Homo sapiens: one gene and its partners. The protein of the gene in region 2 interacts with the protein of the main gene of each other region in a biochemical or structural test. Each region holds a gene or a part of one and is shown on either strand. Other genes may lie near its edges.

Evidence for each region. The genes of interacting proteins can lie anywhere in the genome.
Region 1: the proteins of MYOZ1 (region 2) and MAGI2 interact in a test that uses a peptide from one of them, tested with the Homo sapiens proteins (one large-scale study listed by IntAct).
Region 3: the proteins of MYOZ1 (region 2) and GRIP1 interact in a test that uses a peptide from one of them, tested with the Homo sapiens proteins (one large-scale study listed by IntAct).
Region 4: the proteins of MYOZ1 (region 2) and MPP2 interact in a test that uses a peptide from one of them, tested with the Homo sapiens proteins (one large-scale study listed by IntAct).

What each region holds. Positions count from the first base shown.
Region 1 is NC_000007.14:79,442,701-79,447,800, forward strand, and holds part of MAGI2 (membrane-associated guanylate kinase, WW and PDZ domain-containing protein 2), read right to left. Parts: intron 1-5,100. UniProt on the Homo sapiens protein: Seems to act as a scaffold molecule at synaptic junctions by assembling neurotransmitter receptors and cell adhesion proteins. Plays a role in nerve growth factor (NGF)-induced recruitment of RAPGEF2 to late endosomes and neurite outgrowth.
Region 2 is NC_000010.11:73,630,958-73,636,057, reverse strand, and holds the end of MYOZ1 (myozenin-1), read left to right. Parts: intron 1-1,324; coding exon 1,325-1,574; intron 1,575-1,992; coding exon 1,993-2,158; intron 2,159-3,896; coding exon 3,897-4,128; 3' UTR 4,129-4,446; downstream 4,447-5,100. UniProt on the Homo sapiens protein: Myozenins may serve as intracellular binding proteins involved in linking Z-disk proteins such as alpha-actinin, gamma-filamin, TCAP/telethonin, LDB3/ZASP and localizing calcineurin signaling to the sarcomere.
Region 3 is NC_000012.12:66,671,610-66,676,709, forward strand, and holds part of GRIP1 (glutamate receptor-interacting protein 1), read right to left. Parts: intron 1-5,100. UniProt on the Homo sapiens protein: May play a role as a localized scaffold for the assembly of a multiprotein signaling complex and as mediator of the trafficking of its binding partners at specific subcellular location in neurons.
Region 4 is NC_000017.11:43,900,070-43,905,169, forward strand, and holds part of MPP2 (MAGUK p55 subfamily member 2), read right to left. Parts: intron 4,425-5,100; coding exon of another isoform or gene 4,392-4,424; coding exon 4,361-4,391; intron 1,496-4,360; exon of another isoform or gene 1,215-1,495; intron 556-1,214; exon of another isoform or gene 484-555; coding exon of another isoform or gene 402-483; intron 1-401. UniProt on the Homo sapiens protein: Postsynaptic MAGUK scaffold protein that links CADM1 cell adhesion molecules to core components of the postsynaptic density. In CA1 pyramidal neurons, required for synaptic KCNN2-containing channel function and long-term potentiation expression.

The DNA.
Region 1 (5,100 bases), on a different chromosome or scaffold from region 2:
AAGAGGTAATCAATTTTCTTCTGCTCATTCAGCCTTCACTCTTCACACACACAAAATGTCTACTCCCTAAGTATATGACTTGCTAGAATGGTAAGATTACCGTTATCTATGTTCAGGGTGTTTTTAGAAATTAGCCAAGACTTTTGGAACATTTTAGTGACCCTCCAAGCCTAAATACTTGCTATGTTTTGAAGAAACTTTGTCTAGCAAAGAGTTTAACATCCTTACATCATAGACTGTGAAAAAAAAAAAGGAAATTAGGTATTGCAGATCAGAATGCAGATCAGAAGGCTGGGCATGGTGACTCACGCCTGTAATCCCAGCACTTTGGGAGGCAGAGGTGGGCAGATCACTTGAGGTCAGGAGTTCAAGACCAGCCTGGCCAACATGGTAAAACCCCATCTCTAGTAAAAATACAAAAATTAGCCGGGTGTGATGGTGGGTGCCTGTAGACCCAGCTACTTGGGATGCTGAGGCAGAAGAATCACTTGAACCCAGGAGTCGGAGGTCTCTGTGAGCAGAGATGATGCCACTATACTCCAGCCTGAACCTTAGTGTTTGAAGTGTGTGTGTGTGTGTGTGTGCGTGTGTGTGTGTGTGTGTGTGTGTGTGTGTGTATTCCATGTACCTAAAGATGCAGAACAAATTTGTTGTTCACTGGGGTGACTCCCACACTAGACTGAAGAAAAGCAAAGCGAGACTCCTTCTTAAAAAAACAAAACAAAACAAAAGAAAAACTTCACAAAAAGCAACATTGGACAATTCATATCTCTGAAACTTATTGGTGTTTACAAAATCCAGCTAATCAGATTTGACAAGTTTAGGGTATGTCACTAGATTAATCTGTGGGTTTCTATAGCACTTATTATCCTCCACATAGCAACACAAAATACTCATATAAGCAAAAATACTCACTTGTAAAATGCAAAATGTTAAAAATGTATGCAATTGTTTTTGTATTATTTTTACTCAGACATTCCCTGTGATCTATTAAGTGACAATGTAAAGTATAAACAGTTTTTGTGCTACACTTGATCCATGGCAATATAAATAATTCAATTTATGCTGGAATTGGGAAATTTACTTTTTAACAAACATCTTCAAACACAATGTAATATAAAAATAGATTTTTAAATATACATTTTGATTTTTAATTAAATAGTTTTGTTTCTTTCTGCTTCATTTCACAGAGTCACTTAATAAAATCCATGGTACTTACAGAAAAATTCCTGATGTCATATGCATGTGTTTCACTATAAGGCAGTTATGAGGTTGATAAAATTTCTTCTACAAATTTTTTCATTAGACATACGCAAATCAATAAACGTAATCCAGCATATAAACAGAACCAACAATAAAAACCATATGATTTTCTCAATAGATGCAGAAAAGGCCTTTGACAAAATTCAACAACGCTTCATGCTAAAAACTCTCAATAAATTAGGTATTGATGGGACGTATCTCAAAATAATAAGAGCTATCTATGACAAACCCACAGTCAATATCATACTGAATGGGCAAAAACTGGAAGCATTCCCTTTGAAAACTGGCTCAAGACAGGGATGCCCTCTCTCACCACTCCTATTCAACATAGTGTTGGAAGTTCTGGCCAGGGCAATCAGGCAGGAGAAGGAAATAAAGAGTATTCAATTAGGAAAAGAGGAAGTCAAATTGTCCCTGTTTGCAGATGACATGATTGTATATCAGAAAACCCCATCATCTCAGCCCAAAATCTCCTTAAGCTGATAAGCAACTTCAGCAAAGTCTCAGCATACAAAATCAATGTGCAAAAATCACAAGCATTCTTATACACCAATAACAGACAAACACAGAGTCAAATCATGAGTGAACTCCCATTCACAATTGCTTCAAAGAGAATAAAATACCTAGGAATCCACCTTACAAGGGACGTGAAGGACCTCTTTAAGGAGAACTACAAACCACTGCTCAATGAAATTAAAGAGGATACAAACAAATGGAAGAACATTCCATGCTCATGGGTAGGAAGAATCAATATTGTGAAAATGGCCATACTGCCCAAGGTAATTTATAGATTCAATGCTATCCCCACCAAGCTACCAATGACTTTCTTCACAGAATTGGAAAAAAACTACTTTAAAGTTCATATGGAACCAAAAAAGAGCCTGCATTGCCAAGTCAATCCTAAGCCAAAAGAACAAAGCTGGAGGCATCACGCTATCTGACTTCAAACTATATTACAAGGCTACAGTAACCAAAACAGCATGGTACTGGTACCAAAACAGAGATATAGACCAATGGAACAGAACAGAGCCCTCAGAAATAATGCCGCATATCTACAACTCTCTGATCTTTGACAAACCTGAGAAAAACAAGCAATGGGGAAAGGATTCCCTATTTAATAAATGGTGCTGGGAAAACTGGCTAGCCATATGTAGAAAGCTGAAACTGGATCTCTTCCTTATACCTTATATAAAAATTAATTCAAGATGGATTAAAGACTTAAATGTTAGACCTAAAACCATAAAAACCCTAGAAGAAAACCTAGGCAATACCATTCAGGACATAGGCAGGGGCAAGGACTTCATGTCTAAAACACCAAAAGCAATGGCAACAAAATCCAAAATTGACAAATGGGATCTAATTAAACTAAAGAGCTTCTGCACAGCAAAAGAAACTACCATCAGAGTGAATAGGCAACCTACAGAATGGGAGAAAATTTTTGCAGTCTATCCATCTGACAAAGGGCTAATATCCAGAATCTACAGTGAACTCAAACAAATTTACAAGAAAAAAACAAACAACCCCATTAAAAAGTGGGCAAAGGATATGAACAGACACTTCTCAAAAGATGACATTTATGAAACCAAAAGACACATGAAAAAATGCTCATCATCACTGGCCATCAGAGAAGTGCAAATCAAAACCACAATGAGATACCATCTCACACCAGTTAGAATGGCAACCATTAAAAAGTCAGGAAACAACAGGCGCTGGAGAGGATGTGGAGAAACAGGAACACTTTTACACTGTTGGTGGGACTGTAAACTAGTTCAACCATTGTGGAAGTCAGTGTGGCAATTCCTCAGGGATCTAGAACTAGAAATACCATTTGGCCCAGCCATCCAATTACTGGGTATATACCCAAAGGATTATAAGTCATGCTTCTATAAAGACACATGCCCACATATGTTTATTGTGGCACTATTCACAATAGCAAGGACTTGGAACCAAGCCAAATGTCCAACAATGATAGACTGGATTAAGAAAATGTGGCACATATACACCATGGAATACTATGCAGCCACAAAAAAGGATGAGTTCATGTCCTTTGTAGGGACATGGGTGAAGCTGGAAACCGTCATTCTCAGCAAATTATCACAAGGACAAAATACCAAACACCGCATGTTCTCACTCATAGGTGGGACCTGAACAATGAGAACACATGGACACAGGAAGGGGAACATCACACACCTGGGCCTGTTGTGCAGTGGGAGGAGGGGGGAGGGATAGCATTAGCAGATATACCTAATGTTAAATGACAAGTTAATGGGTGTAGCACACCAGCATAGCACATGTATACATATGTAACTAACCTGCACGTTGAGCACGTGTACCCCGAAATTTAAAGTACAATTAAAAAAAGAAGAAAATTCAACATAGACAAAATCTCTCTTTGCACTATAAAGGTTTATTTTTTTCTTCTGTAACATATCTGTGTTTGGGTATATCCAATGATATATCCAAAGTATAGCAAGTATTTAGGCTCAAACTGCCATGGTTTTGACAGTGATTTTTTTTTTAAAGTAAGCCAAAATAAATAAAAATGGCATAAAACCTCATAAGGATTCATGTAACGATTACATGGAGAAATTATTTCCCCAGGTAGAGCAAGCCATCTAATTATTTCAAATATTGAAACAAATCTAGCCATTCATATAAATCACCCACTCATTAGCCTAATGGATCTTTGAAAGTATATCAATGGGGGTTGGGCGCAGTGGCTCACACCTGTAATCCCAGCCCTTTGGGAGACCGAAGCAGGTGGATCACGAGGTCAGGAGATCAAGACCATCCTGGCTAACACGGTGAAACCCCATATCTACTAAAAATACAAAAACATTAACCGGGCGTGGATGGCGGGCACCTGTAGTCCCAGCTACTCAGGAGGCTGAGGCAGGAGAATGGCGTGAACCCGGGAGGCGGAGATTGCAGTGAGCTGAGATCACGCCACTGCACTCCAGCCTGGACGACAGAGCGAGACTCCGTCTCAAAAAAAAATAATAAATAAGTGAAAAAATAAAAGTACATCAATGGGATGCAATTGAGTTAATATTCAATAACTTATCAAAGAAGGAAACTTTTATTGTTTCTTCCAGACCACTCAAAACAGTCAACAATATATATTAAACTTAACACAAATTTTAACTTTTTTAAAAATATCTCAATATGAAGTCCTTTTAGAGTTGACAAAGATGTCAGTAAGACGTAATAATAAAAGCAATTTTTATTAATTATCTATGATGATATGGACATTGTACTATGTATGTCCCTATGCAAGTCTTTAACAATGTAAATTCAGCAATTATTATATTACTAAGTTTTCTATATAAGATAATTTACTTTTATTAAAGGAAATATAACAAATACTTACTAGAGACAGAAGAGAGCTGAGAATAGAATGGAGTAAGTAATAATAAAGTCACTAAACTAAGGCAGTTGTATGTTTGTTGTCATAATATATAGCCAGATTATAGCTAGGAGAGATTTTTAGAAATTAATACTGAACCCTGGAGCTTCAAGGTAGATGTTTCCATTGAACTGTAAAATAGGATTAATTCAACGAAAATGCTAAAATTATGGGGAAGCTAGCAGTGGAAGTATTGTTGGTTGCTTCACCTTGTAACAGTATTAATACACAGACTTACTTATATTGCATTTCTTTCATACAAAGTATGAAAATACTATAAAATAGTATTTTAATAGTACTATAGTACGTTAATAGTATTTAAATAGTATTTAAATTTAATGGTATTTTAACAGTACCATAAAATACTATAAAATAGTATAGTATAAAATACTATAAAATGCAATACAAATAGCCTTTTAACTTATTTACAT
Region 2 (5,100 bases):
CTGAGCTGCTCATATCTAACTTTAGGAGGCCAAAAGCACTCTTCTCTGCCTGGGTCTGGTTACACTGGGTGGAGCATTGGGGTGTACATGGTGGGATGGCCAGGAGAGCCTCCTGAAGAAGTTGGTGGGGTTATTTTTAGGCTTTGGGTTTGCATCTAATGTTGCCCTTTTGGCCACACTTCCCCCCACCTGCTACAGTGTCACTGTCACCAGTGAGGTCCAACAGGCACCAAGAGGAGAGAGGAAGAGAAAGAAGGAGAGAGAAGAGAGTTCTGACTGTTGGACAAGCTGAGGAAGGGAGGGGGCAGAATTTCTCTAGTCCTTGTAATTAAGACTGGGTGCTCCATGGCAACCCCATCCTCCCAAATTTTAGTTGGGGCTGGACACAGCTCATGCCTGTTATCTCAGCACTTTGGGAGGCTGAGGCAGATGGATCACTTGAGCCCAGGAGTTTGAGACCAGCCTGGGCACATGGCAAACCCTGTCTCTAGGAAAAAAAAAAATACAAAATTTAGCTGGGTGTGGTAGCATGCCAGTAGTCCCAGCTACTTGAGAGGCTGAGGTGGGAGGATTGCCTGAGCCAGGGAGGTGGAGGTTGCAGTGAGCCGAGATTGTGTCACTGCACTCCAACCTGGGTGACAGAGCCAGATTCTGTCTCAAAAAGCAAAAGAATTTTTTTTCATTTTTTTTTTTTAAAGCTGGGCAGGCGTGTTGGTCTTTTTTGACTTGTTAAGGATGAGAAAGGGGAGTGTGGAGAACACGCTGCCCTTACCCTAGGTATAACTGGAGGAAACGAGCCAAGGGAGTCCTACCTCTTAAGAAGAGTTTAATTCGGGCTGGGTGCGGTGGCTAACGCCTGTAATCCCGGCACTTTGGGAGGCCGAGGTGGGTGGATCATCTGAGGTCGGAGTTTGAGACCAGCCGGACCAACGTGCAGAAACCCCACCTCTACTAAAAATATATCAAATTAGCCGGGTGTGATGGTGCATGCCTGTAATCCCAGCTACTCGGGAGGCTGAGGCTGGGAATTGCTTGAACCTGGAAGGCTGAGGTTGCGGTGAGCCGAGATCGTGCCATCACACTCCAGCCTGGGCAACAAGGGCGAAACTCTGTCTAAAAAAAACCACAAAAAATCAAACAAACAAAAAGAAGAGTTTAATTCTCTTAGTCAGCCCATGTACTACCCATCAACTGGAGGGGGAAATATCAGAAAATTCAGGGTCTTCTGGTTAGCCACTATTTCTGCCTTTGCTAAACATACCTCTGTTTTTGTATATTTTCCATACCCATTGCTAACCTTCCCCTCACTTTGTCTTCTTTTCAGGATCACTTCCAGAAGTTCCTTCCAACAGTGGGGGGACAGCTGGGCACAGCTGGTCAGGGATTCTCATACAGCAAGAGCAACGGCAGAGGCGGCAGCCAGGCAGGGGGCAGTGGCTCTGCCGGACAGTATGGCTCTGATCAGCAGCACCATCTGGGCTCTGGGTCTGGAGCTGGGGGTACAGGTGGTCCCGCGGGCCAGGCTGGCAGAGGAGGAGCTGCTGGCACAGCAGGGGTTGGTGAGACAGGATCAGGCAAGTACACTCACCCAAGAGTAATGTGTTTGGTCCCTAGAGCAGAGTTGTCCCAGGAATGATGTCTACGCTGAGTGTGGGGAGCAGAGGAGGTCAGTTTAAATATCTTAATATTAAATATAATAATATCAGTTTAAATATCATAAATATCTTGGTGAATTACCTGGGTCCAGGAGTATATAGAGATGTGTCTATTCTACCCAGAAGCCTTGTTTTTCAGTTACTTTCCTGGCTTTTCGGATTCAGTCACAGATCTGCCCACAGACTATCATTATGCCACAAACCTTATACAATTACCAGGATATTATATCTTTAGTCCCTGGCTCTTGCAATTTCCCTAGTGTAGGGGCGTGGGATTACCTTTCATTGGCTACTAAATGCTATTATTTGACTGAATTTTCTCTCCCATGGCTACCAGGAGACCAGGCAGGCGGAGAAGGAAAACATATCACTGTGTTCAAGACCTATATTTCCCCATGGGAGCGAGCCATGGGGGTTGACCCCCAGCAAAAAATGGAACTTGGCATTGACCTGCTGGCCTATGGGGCCAAAGCTGAACTTCCCAAATATAAGTCCTTCAACAGGTAGGGGTGGTGAGGAAGGAACCAGATGCATTCTAGTGTGAGGCACTGTGTCTTTAGTTAGGATGGAGACTAATTCAAATGTTTCAGAAGGAGGCTAAGGAGAGATGGCAGGGATATGGGGGTCCTAATCAAAGGCCCTGCTCTTTTCACTCTATCTCAGCTTCATCATAGCAGTGTGATGAAGGAAAAAATTTGCTGGGAGGCAGGATTTGAATTCTAGCTCAATGGTCATTTATTAGCTGTGTAGGCATGGGAAAATCACTCTACCTCTGAGCCTGGGTTGCTTTGAACGTTACACTTATTTATTTTTTGTCTTTTTTTTGCTTCCTTTTTGTGGAGAATGGGGTCTCGCTATATCGCCCAGGCAGGTCTCGAACTCCTGGGCTCAAGCTATCCTCCCGCCTCTGCCTACCTGAGACCTGGGATTACAGGGGTGAGCCACCGTGCCCGGCCTGCTTTGAATGTTAAATGCGAATAACATTTTACATGTCTGAAGGCCTCTTGAGGCTCTCTTCCATTCAAGGTTAGGATGCCATTATTCTCCCTGTAATATGATTCTATTTCCTTATACTTTTTTCTTTTCTTTCTTTCCTTCTTTTTCTTTGACTCAGTTTTGCTCTTGTTGCCCAGGCTGGAGTGCAGTGGCATGATCTCAGCTCACTGCAACCTCCGCCTCCTGGGTTCAAGTGATTTTCCTGCCTCAGCCTCCCTAGTAGCTGGCATTATAGGCACCCGCCACCACGCCCAGCTAATTTTTGTATTTTTAGTAGAGATGGGGTTTCACCATGTTGACCAGGCTGGTCTCAAACTCCTGACCTCAGGTGATCTGCCCGCCTCGGGCTCCCAAAGTGCTGGGATTACAGGCGTGAGCCACCATGCCTGGCCACCCTGCTTTAGATGGCTCTAAGTCTCTGTTCTTTTGGAATTAGGCTTCTCTAGCCCATGGAGAGGAGGTCTGTGTGAAAGGATAGGGAAGAGCTAGAAAGGTACTCTTGTATTTGGTCCTAAGGAGCCTGGATTTTCCAGGCAACAATAATTACTCTTAGCCAGGCTATCCACTGTCCACTAGGGTTGGAGAGAGGGGGTCTCTATATTGCAATTTTTTTTTTTTTTTTTGAGACAGAGTCTTGCTCTGTTGCCCAGGCTGAAGTGCAGTGGTGCAGTCTCGGCTCACTGCAACCTCCACCTCCTGGGTTCAAGCAATTCCTATACCTCAGCCACCTGAGTAGCTGGGATGACAGGGGTGCGCCACCATGCCCAGCTAATTTTTTTTTGGGGGGGGGGTGTTTGTATTTTTAGTAGAGATGGCGTTTCACCACGTTGACCAGGCTAGTCTCAAACTCCTGGTCTCAAGTGATCCACCCACCTTGGCCTCCCAAAATGCTGGGATTACAGGCGTGAGCCACCGCACCGCACCTGGCCTTTCTACATTGTCATGTAAGGTGACCTCAGGCCCTTGGGTCTATAGTATTTGGGGTCACTTTCTCTGAAATGCTGGTCTGGGTCACAGCTATCCAAGAGTCTCTAGTACACACTAGACTCCTTTTCTCATTATTAGCTTTGGGGAAACAAGCTAACCAGGAAGGCAAAATGGGATGCTAAGGAAGAAGAAGGAGTACAGATGCAATCCCAAACTAGAATTCACAGACTTCCCTATTCTCAAAGAGGGTAGCATCTCATGATAAGGCTCTGTTTCTTTTATTCTGATTCTTAATTAAATAATGTGTCCCCTTCTCAGGACGGCAATGCCCTATGGTGGATATGAGAAGGCCTCCAAACGCATGACCTTCCAGATGCCCAAGTTTGACCTGGGGCCCTTGCTGAGTGAACCCCTGGTCCTCTACAACCAAAACCTCTCCAACAGGCCTTCTTTCAATCGAACCCCTATTCCCTGGCTGAGCTCTGGGGAGCCTGTAGACTACAACGTGGATATTGGCATCCCCTTGGATGGAGAAACAGAGGAGCTGTGAGGTGTTTCCTCCTCTGATTTGCATCATTTCCCCTCTCTGGCTCCAATTTGGAGAGGGAATGCTGAGCAGATAGCCCCCATTGTTAATCCAGTATCCTTATGGGAATGGAGGGAAAAAGGAGAGATCTACCTTTCCATCCTTTACTCCAAGTCCCCACTCCACGCATCCTTCCTCACCAACTCAGAGCTCCCCTTCTACTTGCTCCATATGGAACCTGCTCGTTTATGGAATTTGCTCTGCCACCAGTAACAGTCAATAAACTTCAAGGAAAATGAACTCATTCTTCCTTTGATATTTGAGAGCAGATGAAAGCCGAGGCTAACAATGCACAGAGACTAATTAAAGCCAAATACTAAACATTAATTATGCAAACTTTAAGACAGATCTGAGCTCCAGTTGCTTACACACCTACACCCATACGCACAAAACCACATTCATAGTTACTTACAAAGACGTTTATTCAATAGTACATGAGACAAATAATCACGCACAAACACATGTGCCGGCCCAAATGTTGGCAAAGCTAAAAAGCTGCTGTGCACCGCAGTTGGGAAATGGGTGTTGGTGACCCTGGTGTTCACCCGCTTTATGTAGTTGATTAGAAGCTGGTATAATCAGGGTTATCCTGATTGTCACAGACTAGAGCATGCCATAAAGTTTCCAGATTATACCAAAGTGGGTTTAGGAATATAAGTGTCAAAGATTACACATTCCCAAAAGGATGAAATAGAATAGGGGGCCATGTGGAATCCAGAAGGAAATGGGAGAAACCAGCTACAGTTATAGTATGCCAGGCTCTGTGTTGAACACAGCAAGAAAAGATCTAAGGGTTACAAGGGCACTACAGTGGTACCTAGAAAGCAGTATGGTTGGGAAGAAATCTTAAGAGCCCGATAGGAATGCGCAACAATATTCTTTTTGCTCATTACAAGGATGGGGACTCTCTAAGAGTCCCAGGCCTACTGCCATGTT
Region 3 (5,100 bases), on a different chromosome or scaffold from region 2:
GGACATCAATACCCTGTGAAAACTGTTCTCTCAAAGGTCAGCAATGACCCACTTACAAAACAGAAGGGCTGCTTCTCGCCTCTCCTTCTCTCATCTTTGCTTTGGTTTTTAGATATTACGGTATCCAAACGCTATTTCTCCCACTGTTTTTCTCTCTGCCACCTCTATTAGCTTAAGAAAGCCTTGGGGAAAATGTGTGGGACGTGTATCCTAAACACATTTCTCAGACAATATGTATCAGAAGACTTGAAAGTGAAGATACATGAAGGCAACAATTTAAAGCACAAAATAAATTCTTTAAAGACAATTCAGTATCATGTATTAGACTGAAAACTGGGAAACAAACTAAAGATATATTATCCACATAAGGAAATACTACAGAGACAGTAACAGTTTCCTATGACAAGTGTGTGCTAATGTGCACAAATGGGCAGAATATTAGGAAGAAGATGTAAGACAAAACATGTATTATACATATAATTTCAACTTATTAAAAAGCATAATAATTTGTAAATCAATTTGTTTTCCTCCATTGGTTTCCATTATTATGATGACAACATATCTTTAGTGATATTTAGTTTTACCTTTTCTCCTAATTCATCTGTTTTGAAAATGAATAGAAATTTCCTTAGTACAAATGTAACTTATTGTATTCTTCATATATTCAGCTATTTAATAATGTAGTTGGAATTATTAGTAAGAAGCTCTTTCTCACTTTCTAATACCCCGAGCTTTGCCTGAATTTAGGTGGTCATCATTGACTGAGACATCCAAGACCACTGCTTTTATTGCTTTTTGTAATGGCAAGGTCAAAGTTTCCTTGGTTTGAAGGGTGCAGTAACATCCTTTAAGGAGCTACATGTAATAAATATCTGGGTGCATTTTTTTTTTGGATATATGCGATACTGAAACAAATAATTATTTTAAAAATCTGCAAATAAGATTTTCTTCTGTATATTTAATAAAGCAGCAGTTACTAATTTTAAATTTAACATAATTCTCATGTATATGGGCAAAAAAGTGGTAAGAAACTAAAAGAGAGAAAAAGATGAGTTTCAAACACTGACGGCTTGCCTATCCCTAGAAACTATGTATTTTGCCTCCTCTCAAATAGTGGGAAGTTATCAAATTATATATTTTCCGCCAGAATAAAGTGAATTTACTAATATAAGAATTTCAAATAAATCAACTGTAGTAGAAAATTAAATCATTTTGTTATAGCTAACATGAGTATAAAACAGTTTTCACAAGTAATTTTTAATTTACAGATTAAGAAACTGAAATTTAGTGGGGGAAATTCAGTTTTTTTGTTTGTTTGTTTTTGCCACACAAGTAAAAATAGGAAAGCTAGGAAAGGTTGACATATCTTCTAATTTCTAAGTCTATTCTATTTCCCCTACCATAAGGAATGCTGAGAGATTAGTGTGGTGTTGTCTTGATTAATTTCTCTTTATTATTCTAGATAGGCAGGTCTATGGTTTCTATCCGTTTCTAGAAGAGAAAAAAAATGGCAAAAATGAAACACTGGGGTTCCTCCTGTCCTCCACTTGTGATCTTAGGAATGATTCTTAACTTCTCTGAACCTCTTCTTTTTCATCTGTATGGTGGGGATAATGACGATAATATTGCAAGATTTAAATGAGTTAGTACATGTAAAATGTTTAGAATAGTACCTGGCAGAAAGTAAGTGCTCAATAAATGTTAGCTATCCTTATTTCCATTCTTCCTCCTAAACATTTCCCAAAAGTATATAAGTTAATCGATTAGAATGCCTATCCTACATTGGCCCTCCTTTTCCCAGTAATGAACCAGATATTTCTTCCTAACCTGCTACAATCATATAAGAAGGGTGTAGACTCCTTCTTGTTTATATGGGGTCATACAAGGCATAGCCAAAATTTCCTCTGGAGGATGGGTACCTCCTGGAACGAGGTAAAGTATTTCTAGCATCCAATTCCCATTTGGAAGACAGGGGAGAAATAAATGCGCCATTATGATAATTCTAACTAGTTATATAAACGAAAAGCTTCAGTCCAGTGGAGAGTAAAGCGGTCCAAGCCACTGTTCAATGTAAACTCCCTCAAAGCATGGGCTAGAAGCACAGCAAGAAATCCATCACAATCTGGACCACGAGCAGCACTTGCGCGAGAACAAGACCTGCCTGGGACCCAGCTGCAGCATTCTCCTGTTCAAGTGGGGTCTCTCTATTTGCAAGAGAAATATGCCCCATGCCCTAGCAATAGATGAAACTCCAATAAAACAAGACAGACTTACTTTGTGAAATATCTATTAAGTGCATATTATTTTAAAAAGTTGATAGGCTAGAAAGATAAATACGTTAAATGCACTAGCTTTGATGGCATGAAATGAAGGGGTGGAGGCAAAGCAGAAAGGACATGGTTGCAGGTGAGATTTGGAAAGGGGTGGAAAGTTAACGAGGTGGAGGATACAGTTAAGTTGTTCCAGATGGCAGGATCTGACAGAGAAGGCCAGCGAGGGTTAGCAGAATGGATGAGGATGGGGAGACAGGAGAAATGAGGTCCAGCACAGAGAGAGAGAGCATTCTCAACCCAGATGATGATCAGTTCTGAATCATATCACAGAGTGGATGAGGAATCATTAGAGAAGACTGCTGAAGGAACCACAAGGCTAGACACAGACAGATGGGAAAGAGCAAAGTGACCAGAACAGAAAATCCAAGGCCACCAGCAAAGGAGCCATCAGGTTTGGAACACTGATACTGAACTCTGTGATGGATTCAGAATTCCTTGGATTAAAAGATTCTGCAGATGAGAAAAGATGGGAAATATTTTTCCTCTTCCATTAAGACAAAACATTTAAATGTGTTTCTTTAATTAAGATTACACTTAGGAAATGAGTTTCTAAATAGAAGAACTTTTAAACACAGGATGAGTGTCAGAGTTTAAAGGGATTTAGACGTCACCTGAGTAATCCATTAAAAGTTTATCAGACAAACTGTGAGATTGTTCTTGTCAGAGAGAATTGAGAATAAGATTACTGGTTGTCTGAGATGGTTGAGTTTCAGTTCTCTCTGGAAACAAGTCCTAGACGAATGTCTGACCTTCCCTTTCAAGCATAATGATTCCATGATTGGGGTAAGTGTAAGGAACAATGACTGAAAAAATGAGAGTGAGTGTGATCACAACCCAGCCTTTTAATCTTGCTCAGTGCCAGTGGAGAGAGCAATACCCATACATGCCCAGACAGCAGAAAAGGAGAAAAGATACTGAGGTTGGGAGGAGAAATCAGGAAGAAGAGAGGGAGAGAGAAAGAAAGTAGAATGCACAGCAGGGAGCAGTTCCCTGCCAGCCACAGATGTCTCACTTAGACACCCCATTGGGATGAAGGTCAACGGGGCTGCTTATAGTTTGTTAGTGGGAAAGGGACAGGGAGAGTTAATTCTATTTTAGGCCATATGTGTATTTGGGAAGAGAGAGAAAGTGAAGATAAGTAGAAAATAAAATGACACGTAGGCCAGCTATGATGAAAAATGTTGAAGTCTATACTAAAGTGAAGGCAAAGGTTTCCGACATGAGCTTTGAGCCAGTAGAGAAAAGACAGAGAGAGAGGGTGGGTGGCAGCAAAACAATGAAAGGTGCCCAGAGCCGTGCTCCCTGTGGAATGTCAGTAAATATTAATTGGCTGATGTTGGCATTGGTAGGCAGAGTGAAGCTTGTGAAAGAAAAATGCCATTGCCAGTGGAGCACGAAAGTTCAGATCTCGGAGCTCAAAATGGCAGCACCTGAGCAAGCAGCAGAGTCACATCCCATATCACCAGAGAAAGTGATTCTCTGCATATGAGGCCAAACTGTCTCAAGGAAAAGTAATCACACAATCATGACAAGAGAAAAAGAACAAAGTCTGTGGGAGCCATGAAAATATCTCCCCTTCTCTGAGAACATACTCCCTTCCCCTGAGGTATGGTAGCCCCTAGCTGAGAAACCAGGGCTGTCCCAGGTAAACAGCTGTGAAGGTAGGTGCCAAGAAGCCTAGATTTACCCACTCCAGAAAACCCTTTTGTCAGATGTCTCTGGAAACCTCACAAAATGTTATTTTGGGATTTGGCTCTAAGGTTGGGTAATTGGTAGACTCTCATTCTGGAGGAAGAAAAGAACGGCATTGCTTCTTTAGATTTCAATATTAGATGGGAAACGGAATGCTTTTGACGGTGCTTGGTGTTTTCATGAACCAAAGTTCCTCTCATAATGGCAGGCATGGGCCTTTTGGGTAAAGGTTATTTTCTTGCTCTTGTTCTACATTGGTAGGTACCTGATAAGGCAAAATGATTGAAACAGTGGCTTGAAACATTAATAAGAAAATGACTCAATTCCCAAGTCAGAGAAGTGCTAAGTTTACCTGAAATATATTCTACTATAATACTGTGGATCAGTGTCTATGTGGAGTGATCCAAGGACTTGTCTAGAAATACATGTTTTATACATCTTTTAAAATTACATCTGACCTAAAGAAAAAATATTTATTGTTCAATAATATATTCATTTTAAAAATGCTTTTTACACCTATAAATTGTCCCAGCCCAGAATTCTAAGTGCAAAAATGTCAGTGTCTGGCACATAGTAGGTACTTAATCGATATTTGTTAAGTATGTATTAGATATATGAAGAATGTAAGAATCAAGTAAAAATATCAAGAATGTGGGTGTTTGTAGAAAATTGTTTCCCTTTTATTCCATCATTTTCTCCTTAAGAAAATTAAGAAGAAATTGCAATTGCCATATTGCTTTTTCTTGTGGGTGATATCAACCACAAATAGCAAGGTAGTTTTGGAGTCATGAAGCAAACTTCCCCCTGCTAAGATCTGGGTAAGGTTTTAGCCACAAGAGGCCTAATAAAGCTCTTGAAGCATTTCCTAAGAGCTCACAGAAGATTTAAATGCCCTACTACTTTCAACTAGACAAATCCAATTCATTTTAACAAACAGTTTTGAAGTGCCTACTAAGTGTAATGCCTTGTGCTAAATGTCTGGAAGAGTGAGTGTTAGGTGGAGCCCTCAATGGGTATAAAGAAATATGTATGTTTGGGAGTTGAGGGTGAGGGTGTGGGAGTTGTGTGAGTAGGG
Region 4 (5,100 bases), on a different chromosome or scaffold from region 2:
ACTGGAGCTGGCAGAGATGGTTCAGGGACTCCTGGACTCCCATCTCCTTCCTCCTCCTGCTCCCTGCCTTCTCCAGAAAAAAAAGTGCAAGCTTGCCCTTCAGACCCCTCTTGCCCAGGCCGGGGCTTGGCATTGGTCAGAGACCTGCGAGGCCCTCAGTGGGCTCTGAAAGAGGCCAGGGCAGGGACCCTTCCCTTCCTGCCAGGGTATGCCAGATTCCCTCCGTTATCTAGGGGAGGACTGAGCCAAGGGAGTTGGTGCCCTCTGCCCAGGACAGCTCTCCTGAAGGTGCCCTCAGATGACCTCTCCCAGGCCACCCTCCCCAGATGCCCCGACTCTGCTGGAGGAAGGTAGGCTAAGGGGCCAGCTGCCCCGCCCCCATCTGGCCCGCCCTTCCCTACCTTCCCTCTGGAGCTCCGCTTCCTCAGAAGACTCCAGGGATATACCCTCCAAGGAGACCCCGCTGCCTGGGCTGCCTGCCATGGCGGCCCCCAGACCCGGGGACTCCCGGAGCGTCCTACACGCCGCCGTCTACCGCCTCCCCAGCCAAAGCCTGGCCGGGCTGGGGAAGGCGGGAGTCGAGGAGCGCCCTCTGAGGAACCAGCCAATGGGAAGGCTCAGCCGCCGTGACCGCCTTGCTGATTGGCTAAAGCCCTGACTGGCGCTGCGCGGTGCAGAGCAGGCGGTAACCCGGGTGGGAGAAGAGTGGTGGGAGGGAGCCCTAGTCCCACAGATTGCCCGATCCCCAGCATGTCAGTGTCGGTGGGGATGGGGAGGAGGCGGCTAACAGGAAGTTTTGAGGAGGGGGTAGGCATGCTGCCCCTTCAAGACTGGCGCGGTACTCCGAGACCCTCCCCTCACAGCCAGCTTCAGGAGACCCGAGGGAGAAAAGTCTTGGCCCATCTTGTCCCTGTACCCTCTTTTCTAGAAGCCCCTCCTCTAATACACCCCATGCCACCTCCTCCCTATGCCCTCTGACCTCTGCTCTCAGTCCCCTCTCCAGGCCCTGTTTCCTTTACAATAGTCCCTCAGTCTAAGGAAGTCCCCAAGAACGACTCAGCCCTCCACCGGGAGGCAGCCTCACTTGGGCATGGGGCAAATACCTCAAGCCTCAGACGCCTCCCCCTACCCACCCTTGGTCAGCCACTGGGAGGCAGGGTACGTGGGGGAGGTGGCATCGCTGTGGGTAGGGATGGTGCCCCAGCCCTGCTTACCCCTCGCCTCACAGCAGCTTCTTCCCCTCCCCCATCTCCCATGAGTTCTTCCTCTTAATGAAGGGGATGATGCCCAGGAAGCAAGTCAGGCATCTTGGAACTCAGTTCCCCAGAAAGGAAAAATGAGGGCACATTTGCACACAGGGAAAAGTGTGGGCAGAAGGGAAGGACTCAGCTCCGCTCCGGTGACCCCATTCCTCTGAGATCTTGTGCCCAAGAGGCCACCATCAGGGTACTGCAGCCTCCACTCAGACATTCCCTGAGGAGTGGCACCAGGTCGCATTGCACCCCTGGTTGCCATGACAGTAGAATTACACACCAGGACAGTAACCCAGGGATGGAGGAGAGATTTAAAGGGACAGCTCCACCTGAAAGCAGCCACATATCCCAGCCTTGATCCAAAAAAGGGAGGGAATCTGGTGACAGGGGAAGAGGGAGCAAGGCTGCAGGTCAGGAGATGCCAGGTTCAGGATCTCTAAGTTCTCAGCCCAGTGCCACTGTCCATTTATCTCCCAAGTCTCAGGAAAAGGGCCCCTGACTCTACCCAAAGTAGATATGGGGTCTCCCTGCAAGAGGAATACACCCATACCCTTTCCCTCCCTTCAACCATACTGACCCATGGGGAAGGGCGGAAAAAGGATCTTATTAGCTTTGCCCTTTGCAGAGTCCAAGGCAGGGATCTCCCAGGGGAGGAGGAGGGAAGGGGAGCCTGAACTCAGAGGCAGGGACACAGCTGTCTCTCTATCCTGTGGGAAGTATAATGACCACCAGATAATAAGGGGCAGAATCCACCATTAGATTTTTGAAGCTGGGAGCTAATGTAGCTCAGGATAGGACAGAGGCTGCCTGAAGGAAGAAAAACACTTTGTACTTCTTCCTTTGAATATGAGAAGCCAGGAGCAGCCCCTCGAACAACATGAAGGGGAGCAGGAGCCCCAGGAGTCCTTTGAGGAAGCAGAACCCACCGCCACACCCCAAGGCTCCACTCCCTGTCCCCCATCCTCCCCCACCACGCCCCCATCAAGTGGTCTGCAACAACGAAGCCAAATTGCTGGGCTTGCTCCTCCTCCTACGCCCCAGTCAGGCACTATTGGTGGGTTTACTGGGCAGTCCCGGCTGGAGAGGCCATTAAGCACAGGCTCAGGGGTGGGTTTAATTAATGCCTAAGCAGCTTACAGTGGGGCCTAGGCAGGCTGAAAGAGGCAGGGAGACCCCAGGGAGCCCAGCAGGCTGGACAGGAGATGGGGGACTGAGCCCTCTGATGCTGCAGAAGCTGGGGACATTGGTGCCATCCCTCCACTGCAAGGAGAAGAGGCCTTTCCTGGACAAGTGTACCACAGTTTAGGCCCTGGCTCACTCCCTTCACTTTCTCGGAGAGGAGGCACAGAGGAATCATTCTACCCAAAGTGGCAGCCCTGGAACCTCTGGCAGAGGCAGTAGTGGGGCCTAGAGCAAGGGAAGGAGCTGCATGGGAGGGAGGCATCCAGGCAGGGGGAAGTTCAGACAACTCAGAGCAGAACCATAGCAGTTCCCAGCTGCCCGGGCCTCAGAGGGCCTCTAGCACAGGGAACTTAACCTTCTGGGGTCCTGCGTGCACTACGGGAATCCATGATCCCCTAGAGTAGAATATACCTTTTGTGCATGGATGTATATGTCTACGATGAGGGCTCACTGCTGTCACCAGATTCTAAGTGACTCAGGACCAATAAAATTAAGAACAGGCCAGGTGTGGTGGCTCATGCCTGTAATCCCAGCACTTTGGGAGGCCAAGGCAGGTGGATCACCTGAGGTCAGGACAGCCTGGCCAACATGGTGAAACCCAGTCTCTACAAAAATACAAAAATTAGCTGGGCATGATAGCAGGTGCCTGTAATCCCAGCTACTTGGGAGGCTGAGGCAGGAGAATCACTTGAACCTGGGAGGTGAAGGTTGCAGTGAGCCGAGATCCCACCACTGCCCTCCAGCCTGGGCAACAGAGGGAGACTCCATCTCAAAAAAAAAAAAAAAGAAAAAGAAAAAAGTTAAGAACACTGATCTTGTCCCATCATCTCATCTTAGGGAAATCTCAGGTCTTCAAAAGGAGGTGACTGTTTCAAGGACACAGGGTTAATGCCAAAATAACAACTCAGGCCAGGCACAGTGGTTCACACCTGTAATCCCAGTAGTTTGGGAGGTCGAGGCGGGTGGAGTACTTGAGCTCAGGAGTTTGAGACCAGCATGGGCAACATTTTTGTCTTTACGAAAAATACAAAAATTAGCTGGGCATGGTGGTGCACACCTGTAGTCCCAGCTACTTGGGAGGCTGAGGTGGGAGAATGACTTGAGGCTGGTAGGCAGAGGTTGCAGTGAGCCAAGCTTGCGCCACTGCACTCCAGCCTAGGCTAAAGAGCCAGAACTTGTCTCAAAAACAACAACAACAACTTGGTGGCAGCGGCAGCAACAGCAGCATAATAATTATGACTATTCCTAAAAGTAATGTGCTCTCCCATTACAGCCTTTGCGTCTCACAGCAGCCTCTTTACAGAAGAAGAAATGCGAGCTCCAAGAGGTTAAGCAGTTTGCCACTGAGGCTTTGCTAGTTTGTCTGAGTGGCCCACTCCCTTGTCCTAATGCCTCCTACAGAGCCACGTCCAGGTATCCTAACCTGGTATTCTTGTTCCTTCACTCACAGCTTCCTGGTCCCCAGTACCCCCTGTCCACCTCTGGCACATGCTGGCCTAGTGGGCAGCGATTATGGACTTCTCAGCCCCAGGCTGTGCTGCTGTAATCCCTCCACCCCCAAGCCATTCTCCAAGGCCCAGCTCCGGGGCCACCTCCTGAAGGCCTGGTCCTATGCCACTGCCCTCCAGCAATAGTACGGGTCACCTCTGGAGCATGCATCCCCTGCCCTCCACGGAGGTGAGTTGTGCTCCAGCCCTACACTGGAGCAGGTATGGGTCTTATTCTTTCTCTTCTCCGTTCCAGCACAGGAACCCACACAGAGGAGATGGCCACAGCAGCTGCCAGAAGGAATGGCTGAGTGGTAGGGTGGACAGCAGTGGAGCCAGTTGGTTCTTATCTGGAGCTGTGCAAGTGCCCACCCCTAAGTCCTCGCCTGGCACCCTCTGAACCACTGAAATAAGCTAACATCCTCACCCCCTTCTTACCAGTTTCAGAGTTGGTGGCGGCAACCGGCATGGTGAAGGAGGCAAGGGCTCTGAAACGTCTCTCCTGGAGAGGGGAGAGAGGAGGATGAGCAGATACAAGGGCAAAGCAATGGGGAAGGGAATAGGAAGAGCCTCCCCTTCAGGACGAGCCAGAAAGGTAGGGGAGAAGGTGCTGCCCAGAAAGTGGGGGTTGGAGAACAACAATGATTCCAACGGTCCTGGGAAGCAGGAAGAGCAGGTATTACTCGCCTATTTCTCTGAGGAGGAGGAGACCAGGGAGGATAAGGGAGGTTAACTGATTTGCCCAAGTTCACAAAGCTAATAAGGAGAGCTAAAATGAAAATCCAGGTTTTATGACTCAAAAATAAGTATATAAATAAAGTGTTTCTTCCTGTTGTATTTTTTGTTTGTTTGTTTTTTGAAGAGGAAACAAGTAGAATTTTTAGAGGGTAAGACTATAATTTGGCTGAGCAAGGTGGCTCACGCCTATAATCCCAGCACTTTAGGAGGCTGAGGCAGGAGAATCACCTGAGCCCAGGAGTTTGAGACCCACCTGGGCAACATGGCGAGACCCCCATCTCTACAAAAAAATTAAAAATTATCCAGGTGTGGTGGTGCATGCCTATGATCCCAGCTACTTGTGGGGCTGAGGCAGGGGGATCTCTTGAGCCCAGGAGGTCGAGGCTACGGTAAGCCATGATTGCGCCACTGCACTCCAGCCTGGGCAACAGAGCAAGAAC